Linked DNA regions of Homo sapiens: all the other regions are linked to region 4. Evidence: fine-mapped expression QTL. A gene starts in region 4. Each other region holds a variant in brackets. All regions are shown on one strand. Distances are from middle to middle. Region 1 has its middle 39 kb from the start of ABCC4. Region 2 overlaps ABCC4 (ATP binding cassette subfamily C member 4 (PEL blood group)). Region 3 overlaps ABCC4 (ATP binding cassette subfamily C member 4 (PEL blood group)). Region 4 holds the start of ABCC4 (ATP binding cassette subfamily C member 4 (PEL blood group)).

What was found. PIP is the estimated chance that this variant, and not a neighbour inherited with it, causes the effect. A credible set is the group of variants that fine-mapping cannot tell apart.
Region 1: its variant is the best candidate, but not a certain one, in a credible set for the expression of ABCC4 in gastroesophageal junction (GTEx, PIP 0.67).
Region 2: its variant is the best candidate, but not a certain one, in a credible set for the expression of ABCC4 in whole blood (INTERVAL, PIP 0.89).
Region 3: its variant is the best candidate, but not a certain one, in a credible set for the expression of ABCC4 in whole blood (INTERVAL, PIP 0.51).

What each region holds. Positions count from the first base shown.
Region 1 is chr13:95,338,375-95,342,536 of GRCh38, reverse strand. No RefSeq gene overlaps it. Among named protein-coding and RNA genes, the nearest start is that of ABCC4, 39 kb to the right of the region's middle. The variant G/A (reference allele first, on the strand shown) is at 2,082.
Region 2 is chr13:95,273,459-95,277,620 of GRCh38, reverse strand. All of the region lies in intron 1 of ABCC4 (ATP binding cassette subfamily C member 4 (PEL blood group)), which reads left to right. Among named protein-coding and RNA genes, the nearest start is that of ABCC4, 26 kb to the left of the region's middle. RefSeq lists a silencer at 2,938-3,037. The variant G/TTTTG (reference allele first, on the strand shown) is at 1,872.
Region 3 is chr13:95,052,888-95,057,049 of GRCh38, reverse strand. ABCC4 (ATP binding cassette subfamily C member 4 (PEL blood group)) reads left to right here. Exons shown (of 31, transcript NM_005845.5): 27 at 3,866-3,955. Among named protein-coding and RNA genes, the nearest start is that of LINC00557, 95 kb to the right of the region's middle. The variant TA/A (reference allele first, on the strand shown) is at 2,502.
Region 4 is chr13:95,298,946-95,303,107 of GRCh38, reverse strand. It overlaps ABCC4 (ATP binding cassette subfamily C member 4 (PEL blood group)), which reads left to right and starts at 1,657. Exons shown (of 31, transcript NM_005845.5): 1 at 1,657-1,867. The coding sequence starts at 1,794. LOC102724149 (a long non-coding RNA gene) reads right to left here and starts at 2,157. Exons shown (of 3, transcript XR_429273.4): 1 at 1,845-2,157; 2 at 782-1,162. RefSeq lists silencers at 1,152-1,211, 1,392-1,451, 1,482-2,121 and enhancers at 938-1,712, 3,315-3,374.

The sequences.
Region 1 (4,162 bases), 39 kb before region 4:
TATCTTGTATGTAGAACACAGCAAATTGCAACTCGGATTTTCCAAGGGTGTCAAAGGAAAGAGAAGGTCCACTTTCTCTTCCTGATTGTTATTGCCACCATACATTCTGGATAAGAACATGGGCACCAATGACTTCTTTTATATCCTGCAGAAAAGCAGCACAAGAAATATATACAGAGTTTTTACTGAAAAAAAAAATGAGATGCAAAAGGAAAGTAACCCTGCCTGATAAAATAATTTCTTTATAAATTTTAATTAATTAATTTTTATTTTTAGAGATGGGGGTCTCGCTATGTTGCCCAGGCTGGTCTCGAACTCCTGGTCTCAAGCCATCTTTCTGCTTTGACCTTCCAAAGTGTAGGAATTACAGGCGTGAGCCACCGCACCCAGCCAAAATAATTTCATCAACAGCTACAATACTAAGATTTGTGCACTTTGGGGTAAATACATAAAGTGTTTTTTCCCCCTAAACGCTGCCTATGATCTTTGTTATCCCCAAACTGGTCTATGTTATCCTCTTTCCCTTAATGAATTCTCAAAGTGATTCTATATTTTTTTCAGTTCATAAGGCTCAGCTCTGTTCACTTACAACTTCAATCTCACATCCTACTCAAGTTTCTCACCTGTCAGCCAAGCAAGTTAGCCTCAAGGCCCTAGATCAGGGTGTCTCAACTTCAGTGCTGCTGACATTTGAGGGGCTGTCCTGTGCATTGTTACATATTTAGCAGTATCCCCAATCGGTACCTACTACATACCAGCAGCACCCTCCCCACAGTAGTGACAATCAGAAATGCCTCCAAGCATTGCCGAATGTCCCCTGGGGGTGCAAATCACCCCCATTTGGGAGCCACAGCTCTAGATGTTTGGAATGCTTGTGTGGGGATTTTGGTATGTTCTGGTTTTCACAGACCTCTTCCTCCTCCCTTTTTCTGGTGCCAAAATTCCTGAATTAAGAAATTGCGGCCAGGCCCGGTGGCTCATGCCTGTAATCCTGGCACTTTGGGAGGCCGAGGCAGGCAGATCACTTGAGGTCAAGAGTTTGAAACCAGCCATGGCCAAGATGGTGAAACCCTGTCTCTACTAAAAATACAAAAAATTAGCCAGGCATGGTGGCACATGCCTGTAATCCTAGCTACTGGGGAGGCTGAGGCAGGACAATTGCTTGAACCCGGGAAGCAGAGGTTGCAGTGAGCTGAAATCGCACCACTGCACTCCAGCCTGGGTGACAGAGGGAGACTCTGTCTCAAAAAAAAAAAAAAAAAAAAAGAAATTGCAATCTAGCTATCCACTTATTTTATTTGCAGTTGGAGAGGTAGGGTGGAGATATAGGAACGACTGAATTTAATATTTTGATAAATTATCTTGCCATAATAGCTTCTTCTCATTAAACATCTATGTTCCAGGAATTGTAATAAACACTGTCACATAAACAATAATCCTGTGAGACTGGGCGCAGTGACTCGCCTGTAATCCCAGCACTCTGGGAGGCCAAGGCAGGCGGATCACAAGGTGAGGAGTTCAAGATGAGCCTGGCCAATATGGTGAAACCCCATCTCTACTGAAAATACAAAAATTAGCCGCGTGTGGTGGCGGGCACCCGTAAACCCAGCTACTCGGGAGGCTGAGGCAGGAGAATCCTTTGAAACCAGGAGGCAGAGATTGTAGTGAGCTGAGATCGCATGCCACTGCACTGCAGCCTGGGCGACAGGGCAAGACTCTGTCTCATTAAAACAAACAAACAAATAAACAAACAAACAATAACCCTATGAGTTAGGTACTACTTTTTGTATCCATATTACAGATGAGAAACCAATTTCAGCAAACATAAGTAAATTTCCCAGGGTGGTCCAGCTGTAAAAGAAGATACGAATATAAATCTAGACAATCTGGGTTACAGGGCACAAAGTATTCATCTTCAACTTGGAGTTCAGCTTCTGGAATGCAAGGGTGGATTAACACAGGGGAACTGGGAGAGATGGGCTTATGTGTGTTAGGCCCAGGCCAGCAGATGTGAAGCTTCACAGGACTGTGTGGGTAGAAGGGAGGTCCAAATCATACATAAGCAACAAGGGCCTATCTGG[G/A]CAACATTCTGGGGAGGCTCAATGCAGCAGAATGATGACTAGGGGTTATTTGTTTCTTTCTTTATTTCCAATCCTATTCCTGCCAAACCTCCCTGCCCCAGGAACCCAGGACAGGTATCCTGCACCCCTCTTACCTGTGTCTCCATTTTCTCCGCATCTTGTTTCGGGTTTCGCTGACAAAGCTCCTCAATCGGTAGGGCGTGGTGGCTCACGCCTGTAATCCCAGCACTTTGGGAGACTGAGGTGAGACGATCACTTGAGGCCAGGAGTTCAAGACCAGCCTGGAGAACATAGTGAAACCCTGTCTCTACTAAAAATACAAAAAAATTAGCTGAGCTTGGTGGTGCTTGCCTATAATCCCAACTACTCAGGAGGCTGAAGCATAAGAATCTCTTGAGCCTGGGAGGTGGAGGAGGCAGTCAGCCAAGATTGTACCACTGCACTCCAGCCTGGGCAACAGAGCAAGCTCTTTCCCCCACCGCCTCCCCCCCCCAAAAAAAAGAAAAAAGAAAAAAGAAAAAAAAACCCTCAACAAATTTACCCTCTGATTTCTTTTTTAACTTAATCCCAAATGTGATAGTACCCTCTGATGTTAATGTTAGCTTGGTCTCATATGAAACTGACCATCACCAAGGTAATATAGCCACATCTGGACAGTGAACGGCCTATTGGCTGGTGAAAAGCCAAGATGACTGGCTTTGAATCAAACAATGCAGGTGTATGCCCAGCTCTATTACTGTCACTGAAAACATGTGTGGCCTCAGCAAATCAGGGACCTTCTCTGAGCCTCAGATTCTTTTCCTATAAATTCGGATGATATCTCCCACCTCACAGAATTATGTTTGGGATTAACTGAAATTTCACACCTAAGAAAGCCAAGCACTGTCGCTGTATTCTATGAATTTAGTAAAAGTTAGTTGGATCTGAATCAATCCACAGGAGGAAGAATTTTAAAGCATCATTAGTCAGTAATAGACATATTGAGCAGGAAGCAAATTCACATTGTTGGGGGACAATACAGGTTAATATTTAAAAAAAGAAAAACCAAAGGGCTCAGGTTAAATCACCCAGTTCTGATGGGATAAGAAAGGAAATGGCGTTGACGATTAAAAGAGGAGCTCTAAATTTTTGCATCATTTAATCAGCAAAGAGGACAAATTTACAGCAATGCTGGGGAACTTAGCGTGTGCACAAATATATTAGAACTGTTTATAGGGTTTGCTTGACTTTAATTTCCTGGTGTTATTACTATGATTCTTCTTTGGTTGAGGCTTGTAGATGGGTTATATGAAGAATGAGAACACTTCTAGAACTCAGAGTTCCAAATGAATATTAGCCAGGTGTCCATGCCTGACGGCAAATCTAAACAGTTTATTCAAAGAATGAGTCTTACGACTTTTATAGTTTGGGGAACTGTTTTTCTGTGTGGTTCCTCTGGAACAGAGTGGAGGACTGAAACAGCAAAGAGACACTGTTATGATCACCAGGCATCAGGCCAAGACAGGGAAAGAGGATGGGTTTAGGGGATTTGAACTCTGAGAGTTCCTTCAATGGAAAAGTCTATGTCCCTGCAGCACGAGACCCATGACCTTGCCTCTAAAGCATATGCAGGCATCCTTGCCCTTTAACCAAAATCTATCTCATAATAAATCCAGACGCCTGAAGACTTCAGGTACTCTATAGTCTTCTTTTTCTTTCTTTCTTTCTTTTTTTTTTAATTTCTCAGCTGGGCGTGGTGGCTCATGCCGTAATCTGAGCACTTTGGGAGACCGAGGTGGGTGAATCACCTGAGGTCAGGAGTTTGAGACCAGCCTGGCCAACATGGCGAAACCCCGTCTCTACTAAAAATACAAAAATTAGCTGGGCGCGGTGGCGGGCACCTGTAATCCCAGCTACTCGGGAGGCTGAGGCTGGAGAATCACTTGAACCCAGGAGGCGGAGGTGGCAGTGAGCTGAGATTGTACCATTGAACTCCAGCCTGGGCGACAAGAGCGAAACTCTATCTCAAAAAAAAAAAAATTATCTTCTTTTTTGTGTGATTTATGTTTCTTTAAAATTAAAAAAAAAAAAGAAAAGAAAAA
Region 2 (4,162 bases), 25 kb after region 4:
CCATGGCTCCCTACTTTCTTTGTGGATTTTTTTTTTTTTTTTGAGAAGTCTCACTCTTGTTGCCTAGGCTGGAGTGCAATGGCATGGTCCCAGCTCACTGCAACCTCCACCTCCTGGGTTCAGGCGATCCTCCTGCCTCAGGCTCCCAAATAACTGAGATTACAGGCGCCCGCCACCATGCCCGGCTAATTTTTGTATTTTTGGTAGAGACAAGGTTTCACCATGTTGGCCAGGCTGGTCTCGAACTCCTGAACTCAGGTGATCCACCCTCCTTGGCCTCCCAAAGTGCTTGGATTATAGGTGTGAGCCACTGTGCCTGGCCTTCTGTGTGGATCTTACTGTTACTCTGACCCCCTCTTTTTAGTGTGATTGCCTTTCCCTCTCCCCTCTCCCTTCCCCAATGTGAACTCTGTAAAAATGATCCTAGGTCTAGAACCTATAAGAGTGCCTGTTAGTGGTGGGTGCTTAAGAGTTAATTTGAATTAATGAGGTTAATAATTCTTGTTTCCCTATAGTCCTGTTGTTGAGATTCCTGGTTAGAAAAAAAAGTGAGTTGTGGGTTGTATACTTTGTTTATTTATTTATTGTATTTATTTATTTTTGAGACTGAGTCTCGCTCTGTCGCCCAGTCTGGAGTGCAGTGGTGCGACTTCGGCTAACTCCAACTTTTGCCTCCCGGATTCAAGCGATTCTCCTGCCTCAGCCTCCTAAGTAGCTGGGACTACAGGCGTGTGCCACCACACTCGGTTAATGTTTGTGCTTTTAGTAGAGACAGAGTTTCACCATGTTGGCCAGGCTGGTCTCGGACTCCTGGCCTCAGGTGATCTGCCTGCCTTGGCTTCCCAAAGTGTTGGGATTACAGGCGTGAGCCACTGCGGCTGGCCCGTGGGTTGTATCCTTTTTTATTAATAAAGGCATCTCTATATGCTGTGGTTTGAGAGGGGTTGAAGGCTACTTCCCATGGGAATGAGTGAGGAAGAGCCTATTGCACTCTGGTGTCTTTGAGGGAAAGAGAGGCGGGTGGCTGCCTTCTCTGCTCTTGGGTTCCACAGCTGGGGATTGGGAGGTTACTCTTTTATCAATTGGTTTTTTCTTTTTTTCTTTTTTTTTTTTTGAGGCAGGGTCTCACTCTGTCGCCTAGGCTAGTGTGCAGTGGTATGATCACAGCTTATTGCAGCTTCGTTCACTTTTTTTTTTTTTTTTTTTGGAGATGGGTCCTGTACTGTCTCCCAGGCTCGAGTGCAGTGGTGAGATCATGGCTCACTGCAGCCTTGACTTCCTGGGCTTAAGTGATCCTCCCACTTCAGCCTCTGGAATAGCTGGGACCACAGGCGTGTTCCACCATGCCTAGCTAATAAAACAATTTTTTTGTAGGGACTAGGTCTTGCCATGTTGCCCAGGCTGGTCTCAAACTCCTGGGCTTGAGCAATCCTCCTGCCTTGGCCCCTCAAAGCAGTGAGATTATAGGCATGAACCATTGTGCTCAGCCCTGAGATTTGTTTTAAAAAGTGCCCTGAGATTCACTATGGAGTATTCCCTCTTGATTTATTTCCTACCAAGTAAGCCCTTTAACAGACCATGTATGGCAGCTTTTTGAAGAATGTTTTAGGTCTTTCTAAATATGCAGCTATTCAGGCTAAGGATTGGCATGTTTGTAATTGACCTAATGATTCAAAGAATGGACTGGTTCAGCTGGAATTTTCCTAAAATCTATCCCATTGACAGAGTATTGCACAATTAGAAAAGTGTATGATTTATAATTAGCGTACCCACTTTAACTCTGAATAACAGGCATAAAGGTTATTATATTTTGAATCAGTGTTAACAGTTTTAGACAGCTGTTCTTTGTTACTTGATTTTTTTTTTTTTTT[G/TTTTG]AGACAGAAACTTACTCTGTCACCCAGGCTGGAGTGCAGTACAGAGATTTCTGCCCACTGCAGCCTGTATTTTGAGGCACAGTTGTTTTTGCTCATTAGAGTGCTGCTGAGAGAGTTGATTTCCTAGTTCTAGAGTCACCGCCAAGAGTCCTAAACATTTTCCTATAAGAGAGATGGTAAGGATGGTTACAAAGAAGTAGGCCTGATTTGGTGTAGAAAATTGGTTTCATGTTCAAAGCCAACAAGGGGATGGGGGAGTTTTGGATCAGACCTTTGATTCTGGCGCAGAGCCACAAGGGCTTTGTGTGTTTTGTTTACAGAGCTTAAGCAATCTCAGTTATTAGCTTGCGGATAATTACCAGAAATGTGAACTTAAATCTGTGCTTATTTATTTAACTCCTTGCCTTTTCTCCTAAGAATGTAGGGTGGTGGCATTATAAAAATTAAAGAAAAAGCAAGGCTCCACCACTTTCATGGTGATTCTACTTTACCTGCAGTAAAATCACAGCATGATGGCCAAATTGCCCTTCCTCTCCAAACTTCATACCATTTACTATAAAATAATTTGGATCATAGGGTGATGTAGGCCTGGGGCTGAAGTCTGTGTCAGAATGTTCCTGTGGAGGTTTATATGTTAAAAATTAAAATGAAAACCTGTTTTATTTTATTTTTTGAGACGGAGTCTTGCTCTGTTGCCCAGGCTGGAGTGCAGTGGCACAATCTCGGCTCACTGCAACCTCTGCCTCCCGGGTTCAAGTGATTATCCTGCTTCAGCCTCCTGAGTAGCTGGGATTACAGGCACCCACCACCACACCTGGCTAATTTTTGTGTTTTTAGTAGAGACAGGGTTGTACCATGTTGGCCAGGCTGGTCTCGAACTCCTGACGTCAAGTGATCCGCCTGCCTCGGCCTCCCAAAGTGCTGGGATTACAGGCATAAGCCACCATGCCTGGCTTATTCTATGTTGTTTTTTGTGATGGTCAGTGAGATGTGGCCACAGGAGGAGGCAGAGGAGGTGCTCAGGAAGGCCAAGGTTATTATACTCACAGGTCTTAGAGACGGGAAGCATGTCATGCCCTGCAGGGCCACATGGGGAAGCATCAGTCTTGGTCCCCCCTGTAGGAGCCTGAAGGGGCAGGAGTGAGGGGAGAGCCTGGGCCATGGTCTTTCTTGAGCTTTCAGGGACAGGGCAGGGGAGTGCATGTGAACAGTTTAGAATTGGCTAGTTTGAATAATTTTGGCAGGCTGTAAGCTACAGGCATGGTTTCTAGTTGCTTGTTATCAGGCTCTGGCATGATATAGGTGAAGAAATACTGCTTCCTGGGGTGGACAGGCTAGATAAAGACGGCATAGCTCTGGGTTGGTTGGTTTGCATATCAGAGCTGTGCTCCTGGCTGGGCCCTTCTGGTTCTAAGAACTGGCCAGCTCTGGGAAGGACAGTCTCTCCCCAGCCAGAGAGGTTTCCAAAACGTCAAGACATCATAGTATGCACAAAGTAAAAAATATAAACAGTACAAAGGCCCTGAACAGGGTCACCCTGCTGTATGAGAAATCTACTGGCCTGGCTGAAGGGGAAAGTTGCTTGGGCAGAACAGTGAAAAGCTAAAGCAGGCTTGTTAGTTGTATGAGTCTGTTTTCACGCTGCTGATAAAGACATACCTGAGACTGGGCAATTTACAAAAGAAGAGGTTTAGTGGACTTACAGTTCCATGTGGCTGGGGAGACCTCACAATCATGACAGAAGGCACGGAGGAGAAAGTCACGTGGATGGCAGCAGGCAAAGAGAGAGCTTGTGCAGGCAAACTCTTATTTTTAAAAGCATCAGATATCGCGTGAACCCCGGGGGGCGGAGCCTGCAGTGAGCCTAGATCGCGCCACTGCATTCCAGCCTGGGCAACAGCAAGACTCCGTCTCAAAAAAAAAAAAAAAAAAACAAACCAAAAAAAAAACCCATCAGATCTCGTGAGACTTATCCACTATCACAAGAACAGCACAGGAAAGACCCGCCCCCATGATTCAATTATCTCCCATTGGATCCCTCCCACAACATGTGGGAACTGTGGGAGCTACAAGATGAGATTTGGGTGGGGACACAGAGCCATATCAGTAGTGTAAACCTGGAGCCAGCAGGAAGAGGCATTTGACAGAGCAGGAGGGTCCATGGTGCTCAGTCAAAGTCTTAGGACAAATAGTCCCCATGGAACAGAAGGCAATGCACCTGGCCTTGTTGCGTTTAATTTTAACTTTGCTGTATTTTCAATGATCTGCTCCTCCAGGGAACTGGTGGCACA
Region 3 (4,162 bases), 250 kb after region 4:
GTTTGCTTAACTGAAGGATCTGGAAAAATGGATTTCAAAACTTTTTTTAGGATGGATTATTTACTCCTCCAATCCTACTGGCACAAATAAATGTTTTCAACTAAAGAGTAACTTCATGCAAATTCAACATTTATGATAGCACCCTAACGGTTGGCATACATCAACAGCTATAATCTTTGTTAGGATTAAACAGATTCATTTTTCATATTTGATGGACTTTTTTGTTTTTCTATCAAAGCAAAAGCTAAGTAGTTTTTAAGCAGCCCACTGCTCAGACTTCTGCTATCTTGGTATTTCTACTCCCTGAATTTTCTTCAGTAAGTTGAAAAGGTTAACCAGAGTGTGTCTCTTTAAGACTTCTTTTTTTATTACCTGATTTTCTTTCCTTTTTTTTTTTTTTTCTTCTTTTTGAGAACAAAATTCAAAGGGAAAAGAGGTAGGTATGCAGTTACTAGTAAAGAAATACAATTGGATTCTGGCCTAATGCAGTCAGTCCTTTGTTTCTGCACACTGAAGTCTTCATTAAGGCCATGGAACTGCTCCCTGGAGCTGGTGACCTTTTTGTATCTAAAGAAGACTTTACACGACTTAAATTCTTTTTCCTTTGTTGGTGAACAATGTTCTTTTCTTCTGAAAATGGATGATGATCAGTTCATTCAGAGGCTACAGGGTTTTTTTAAAAAAGAAGGGAAACCAAGATTTAAAGTGACTTCAGGTGATTCCCTGATTCTTGACACAGGGAGATGAGCTGCCCTGAATCAAGGTCTTCAGGATTTGAAATGCACACATAGCTCTGAGGACATCAGGCAGCAGCAGTTGTGGCTAGCTACTGTGCAGTGTATATTTTAAGAGAGCGAAGTTTCCTGGTTTGGGACAAGATTAGGGTAAAGTATTGTGCTTTGTCCTGCTGGTTTGTAACTCCCCATGCGATTTTTGTCTTGGTCCCAGGTCGTTTTAAGTGTCTGAAGGTTGGTGGATAGAGTTTCTTCTTGAGATAATGAGAGGCTTGTCTTCCAGAAGTTTATATGAAAGCTCTAGGAAGACTGTAATTTTCAGTCTTGCAGTCCTGCTGAGGGATTATCAATTTACTGCACTAAATGCTTTGATTCAGAGCGGCCATTTTTAGGTCACGTGGTGGGTTTTTTTTTTGCTGTTGTTGCTGTTGTTTTGAGACAGTCTTGCTCTGTCTCCCAGGCTGCAGTGCAGTGGTGCTATCTTGGCTCACTTCAACCTCCACCTCCTGGGTTCAAGTGATTCTCCTGTCTCAGCCTCCCGAGTAGCTGGAATTACAGGCGCACCCCACCCTGCCTGGCTACTTTTTGTATTTTTAGTAGAGATGGGATTTCACCATGTTGGCCAGGCTGGTCTTGAACTTCTGACCACCAGTGAACCACCTGCCTCGGCCTCCCAAAGTGCTGGGATTACAGGCATGAGCCACCACACCCAGCCTGGTCACATGTTTAATATCAGCTTGTCTTATGTGAGTAATGAGGACAAAATTACTACTCAGTATGGCGCAAAGATTTTTAAAAAGTATGACCTTTAAACCCTAATGAAAAACAGGTTTGATCTGGTGCTTCATTTAAAATAATACGTTGAACAGAACATTGGTTTTGCTAACAATGGAGGTTAAAACTCGTACTAAATGACATTTTAAAATATATACCATCAATAAATATGTACTTAGGCTACTAAATCTTTTACATTTTACATGAAGATTGTATGTTTACCATAAATCTCTACTCTGAAATGTTCTGCCTGCAGAGGTTGGAATTTTAGAGTTGATAATTACAAAGAGTAAGTCAAGTTTTTATCTTTTAATCTGAAATAACCAGAATGATGGTTATTCCCCTCACAAGAAATTCCCACCATTGTTTAGATGGTTGTTCAGGTTTTGGTCTTCAGTTGGGTACTTTTAAGACAGACCTTACCTGTGACTCTTGGAATTTTTCAGTTCCATTTGGTAATTCAGAAACATCATGTGACCAGTGACTTTTCAGTGCTTTTGGAAGGATATTGGCCACTTTATCAGCTTTATACACACAAAGTGCCCATTTTACCGTCGTTTCCATTTTTGCATTTTGCTGAGGACTTATGTTTTTGGTGGCACCCTGTCTGCCTTCTACATCCATTTCTTCCTCACCAGCCTTAAAACGGAGACGATAGGGAAAGGGATGAGAGCCTCCCTGGATATCATTTTTCTTTATGGCTGGAGAAAAAAGAAGTCTACCACCTTTATCTCTCTTCTCAGGCTTTTGGGAAGTGAGGAGGAACAGTCCTGCCCCAAAGCCAGGTGAGATTTGAGGCCAGTGGTTCCCTTGAGCATTTCTCCAGTACCTGTGGAAGAGTCTCACCTTCTCTTGTTCCCACATCTGTGCATCCCCTTGTTCTGCCCCTATCCTTGAAAGCAGTTGATGGGGCTCCTATATCCTTATGGCCTGGCTTATTAGAGCCTTCCAGAAGAAAAGTTTGTGTTTTTGTTTTTTTGTTGTTTTTTTTTT[TA/A]AGATGGAGACTTGCTCTGTGGCCCAGGCTGGAGTGCAGTGACGGAATCTTGGCTCACTGCAACCTCTGCCTCCCAGGTCAAAGTGATTCTCCTGCCTCAGCCTCCCAAGTAGCTGGGACTACAGGTGCCCGCCACCGCACCCAGCTACCAGAAGAAAACTTTCACACAGCCTACCTAAGCTTATGTTCAAGAGTCTCTCTTGAAATCCAGGAAGAGGCTGATATTCCAAGAGTGATTTAATTGTGGGATCCTCCTGAAGCAGATGAATAGGAACAGCTATTTAAATTGATGTAATTTTATTATGACCTCCTTCACAGTGGTTTTCAGGTAACCCTGCTTTCTTAGTTAATAATGAGGTTCTGTGACCCAGGTAACCTTGATGCACAGATGAGATAATGTGGGGATTCACTGATGCAAAATCAGAGGCAATCCTTTCATAAGTAGAGGTGCCTCTGGCCCCAGTTGTTTAGATCTCCTTTGGCCAAAAAAAAAAAAAAAAAAAAAAAAAAAAAAAAAAAAAAAAAAGGATGTCCCATTCTGACATTGGAGAGATTTTTTTTTTTTTTTTTGAGAAGGAGTTTTGCTCTTGTTGCCCAGGCTGGAGTGCAATGGCACGATCTCGGCTCACTGCAACCTCCACCTCCTGGATTCAAGCGATTCTCTTGCCTCAGCCTCCTAAGTAGCTGGGATTACAGGCATGTGCCACCATGCCCAGCTAATTTTTGTATTTTTAGTAGAGACAGGGTTTCACTATGTTGGTCGGGCTGGTCTAGAACTCCTGACCTCAGGTGATCCACCCGCCTCGACCTCCCAAAATACTAAGATTACATGCGTGAGCCACTGCGCCCGGTGAGAGATTCTTAATCTTGGAAAACTGTTTTGCCAACGGAGAAAATAATCCTAATTTATTCTTTAGTGCAAATTGGAAAATGCTTAATAATTTGGCTTTGAAGCACAAACTTTAATCATGCTGTCGGTATTTTCCAGTATTACATGATTGATAGTTAATTTCTATAGCTCTATTCATGTAGACCCTCGAATAATTATATCCTTATATTTCATGTTAAGCTAATAATATGAGGAAAACAGTTTTAAACATCAGGCCTGTATTTTTCATTTTCTTCTTAAGATAGCACATTGCAACAGTTTTGTTAGTGTTCAGTGGTCTGGAAGGTATTTTGGAGCACGCTTTGTACAGTGGAACATTAATAGATATGTTGTTTTGTAAACAGGCATTTGTAACGCTATAATTATTATCATGAATTTTATTTTTTGGTATCTTAATTCTATTGTTGATGTTAGCATTGGAATAAAATGAAAAAAGAGTCTGTGGTAATGACCGTGACTATTTTGGGCACTTAGGAACCTGTTTTGTTCACTGGAACAATGAGGAAAAACCTGGATCCCTTTAATGAGCACACGGATGAGGAACTGTGGAATGCCTTACAAGAGGTAATTGATAAAATGTAATTATCTTTAGTCTGTTAGCCTCAGTATGTGTATATGTACCTTTACAGCATTGCAGGAAATTAAGAGGAGCTTAGCGGTTTAACTAACTTTGTTCACCACCCAGGAGATCATTGAGGATGTGGATATGCTATAATGTGTATACTGATGATGATGAAAACCAAAAATAAAATTTCCCTGGTTCTCATTTTA
Region 4 (4,162 bases):
TCATTCAGGGTGGATATGAAGAGCAGCTGCTGACCTTGTTAAGGTAGCCACAGAAATGACTGAAGACTTAGAGGTGGGAGTACACAAGCTTGGAACAAGATTTTGTTCATTCATTCCTACAGCCATTCAACCAGCATATTCTGGGCACTTCTCATGCACACTGGCCATCCACCAGGGAGACAGGCCATGCTTAGACATAGGCTTATTGCAAATCATGTTTTATCCTTTCTTGGCTCTAAGACTGGACAAGTTCTGCCTTTCAGCTTCACCTTCCTCATCTATAAAGTAAGGATAACCTTGAATGGGGCACTGATAGAATTAAAAGTGAGATAATTGGTCGGGCGTGGTGGTACATGCCTGTAATCCTAGCACTTTGGGAGGCCACGGTGGGAGGATCACTTGAGCCTAGGAGTTTGAGACCAGCCTGGGCAACAAAGTGAGAAATTATCAAGGAACAATAAAATGATCTTATTACAAAGAAAACCAAATTCTCAAACATGCATGAAATATGAAGAAAATAAACCTCCATGACAATCATTTGGCTTCAAAAATTATCAGTATTTGAACTTGGAGCCTTTGATTTTGATTTTTGCATCTCTACAAAAATTACAAAATATGAGCCGGGTGTGGTGGCGGGTGCCTGTAGTCCTAGCTACTTAAACTGAGTTGGGAGGATTGCTTGAGCCCTGGGAGGTCGAGGGTGCAATGAGCCATAATCGTGACACTGTGTGTGAGACTGCCACACACACACACACACACACACACTAGTGAGGCTACGCACTCAGAAATGCACATGAACATCACTGGTATTCTGGAACCCACGTGTCGTTTGCCACTGTTATCTGTTAGGCTTTAGGGCTTGACGACAGAAATCATCAGGCAGTCTCTCTTTCCTCTTATATTCCTTTCCCAATCTAAGGGGGCAGCAAAAAGCTCAGAGGTCCACCGTAGCATGCAACATGTGAGATGCCTAAAGCCCGCCCCCATCGACGACAGCATTCATCCATCTCCCGAATTCATCTGGGTCATACTCTCGAGTTACCCGGCTTTCTTGAGGTCTTGCAGCTCTACAAGGATAATCTGTGGCTAAACTTTGCTGTCGTCCAAGGTCAAATGTTTGGCTCACAGGTTGAAGAGCCTCCCATGGCACCGTCGTTTGGTCCTGAGAAGGGAAAGGCGCCCAGGGGGCGGGCTGCTAGAGCACGAGGCAGCTGTCTCCCAGTCTTCCCAAACCCGTAGCCGAGGGGGCGTTTCTGCGGCGCAGGGGCGGGCACAGCCGACGCCTCCCTGCTCCACCTTCTGTGTCGGCGCCTAGACTCGGATAGTGAATTTCGGAAAGTTTCACTCGGGTTCGTGCACGTGGGCACCTCCGGACCCGGCCTCCTTGCCGCGCGCTCTGCTACCCTCTCCATCCAGCGGCGCAGGCGGCCCTCGCCTCACCCCTGGGCGTAGCTCTGGGCTCCCTTTGGCGTCGCCAGCTTCGCCTCCTCCCGCCGCGTCTCCTCCCGCCGCGTCACCCGTCGGTCCCGGCCGCGCTCGCACGCGGTGCGCAGCTCCCGGGCTCCAGGCGGCGGCGCGTAGCGGGCGCCCCCGAGGCGGCGGGCCTGAGAGGCGGGGACGGGGCGTGCCGCCGGCGCCCGGCTCCCGGAAGCGGCTGCTTCACAGGCTCCAGCCGAGCGGACAGGCGTGGCGGCCGGAGCCCCAGCATCCCTGCTTGAGGTCCAGGAGCGGAGCCCGCGGCCACCGCCGCCTGATCAGCGCGACCCCGGCCCGCGCCCGCCCCGCCCGGCAAGATGCTGCCCGTGTACCAGGAGGTGAAGCCCAACCCGCTGCAGGACGCGAACCTCTGCTCACGCGTGTTCTTCTGGTGAGTGTCCCCGCCCGAAACAGGTCACCCTGCAGCCGCTGGCGCCGCGGACGCACTCTCCCGGGGCCGCGCCCGATGCTGCCCAAGCCCTCTGCGGCTGGGGGCGAGGGGAGCGCTTTCCTACGCCACGCGGTCCACGCCGGGGCTTTCTGCTGCGGGTGGCGCCGCCCCCACGCCGGCCGCGTGGTCCCTGCCTGCGCCCCGGGGCGCGGCGCAGGGGGACGCGGGGACGCGGGGCCAGTGGCTTTGCTACTGGAGGCCCTGCGGGCCCTTAGGGCTCGGGGGAGGAGGAGCAGGAGGTGGGGAGGCGGGGAACCCAGGCTGCCGAAAGGGGGAGTCTCTTGCCCAGCGGGAGAAGCGACTGCACCCCTTACACGCCCACCCTTCGCTGGCTCCCGCCTCCTGCTCTGGGACTCGCAGTCTCCTGAACTCAAACGCACCTTTTCCTTTCTTTTTAAGTAAGCAGCTTACGAACAGTTTCCTTTATCTGATCTCAGCCAAAGCCTAATTAGTGTCCTGGACCTATGCCATCTCCCAGTAGTGTCCCCACCCCTTCCGATATTCCTTACGAGACAGCTCGATCCAACTCCACGTCCCGTTGTACCTCTCTGTGTCCCGGTGTCTCTGTATCTTTTGTCTCAGTGACCAGGGCTCTCCTTTTGCCTCTTTGTGGGAATCTCACTGTGTGTCCATGTGGGTCGTGGTACCTAGTTATGGCAAGTTTCATGTGGGTAAAATAACACTATTATTATTTTTCATTTATGAATGGGGACCCTGTTCTTGAACAAGATTTTCCAGGATTTGCTTTTAACTGGGACATGCACCGCCACGACTGGAGTCTGTCTTTGACCAGCTTCTTTCCCCTGTTTCCAATACTTTCACTTCCACGTAGGAGGACAGCTCGGAGGTGGGGTCCCTGGAATCGCTAACCTTCAGAGAGGTGATCCATGGTCTTGATGCAGGTGGTTCCTACCAGGAGTTCTACCTTCTTAAAACCACCCCAGGGCTCCTGAGCTGGGAGGGCCCACAGCCCTACCCATTTTGTGCAAGGAAACAAACGGAGAAAGACTCGGGTGACAGTAGTAACTAAAATTTCCATCTTGGCCTGGCGCGGTGGCTCACGCCTGTATCCCTGCACTTTGGGAGGCAGAGGTGGGTGGATCACGAGGTCAGGAGTTCGAGACCAGCCTGGCTGACATGGTGAAACCCCGTCTCTACTAAAAATACAAAAATTAGCCGGGTGTGGTGGAGCACGCCTGTAATCCCAGCTACTCAGGAGGCTGAGGCAGGGGAATTGCTTGAACCCAGTAGGCGGAGGTTGCAGTGAGCTGAGATCGCCCCACTGTACTCCAGCCTGGGTGACAGAGTGAGACTCCGTCTTGGGGGAGTGGCGGGTGTGTGTGGGGGAATTCCGTCTGCTAACTACATAAGCCTGAACCTTTGAAGGGCTTCAATCTCACTTGGATGATTATTAGATCTTCTGTTTCTTGACCTCTGCCGCCTCATCTTTCCCACATGTTGATATTGCCTTTTATTATGGGACAACCTAGGGTGGGGGTCTCCAATTTTTTGGGTTCCCTGGGCCACACTGGAAGAATTGTCTTGGGCCATACATAAAATACACTAACACTAATCATACACTAACACTAATGATAGCTGATGAGCTAAAAAAAAATCGCAAAAAAAAATCTGATGTTTTAAGAAAGCTTACGAATTTGGCAGCCCATGGGCCTCAGGTTGGACAAGCTTGACCTAGGGGATTCCAAGAGGATGAGTCGCTTACTCTTGTTTCGATTGTGGTACACTCAGTGGGTGTAGGAACTTCTCTTGGTTGTTTGGCGGCCTTTCTCTTAAGGAGAGGGGCACGTGGAGGAGGAAGGAATATGGGTGTGGTTTCTGCAAATAATAACTTGAGGTAGACAAATGGTCTCCTCAACTTCAGGCAGGGCAAGGAACTTTTTTTTTTTTTTTTTGAGACAGGATCTTGCTTTGTGCAAGCTGTGACCCAGGCTGGAGGGCAGTGACACATTCATAGCTTGCTGCAGCCTCCAACTCCTGGGCCGAAGCAATCCTCCTGCCTCAGCCTCCCGAGTAGCTGGGGCTCCAGGTGTGTGTCACCATGCCCGGATAATAAAAAAAAATTTTTTTTGTAGAGATAGGGCTCTCTATGTTGTTGCTCAGGCTGGTCTTGAACTCCTGGGCTCAAGTGTTCCTCCCGCTTCGGCCACCCAAAGTCTGGGATTACAGATGTGACTCCTGCCTCCTTATATTTTTCTCCCCCTGCATTTTCAAAAT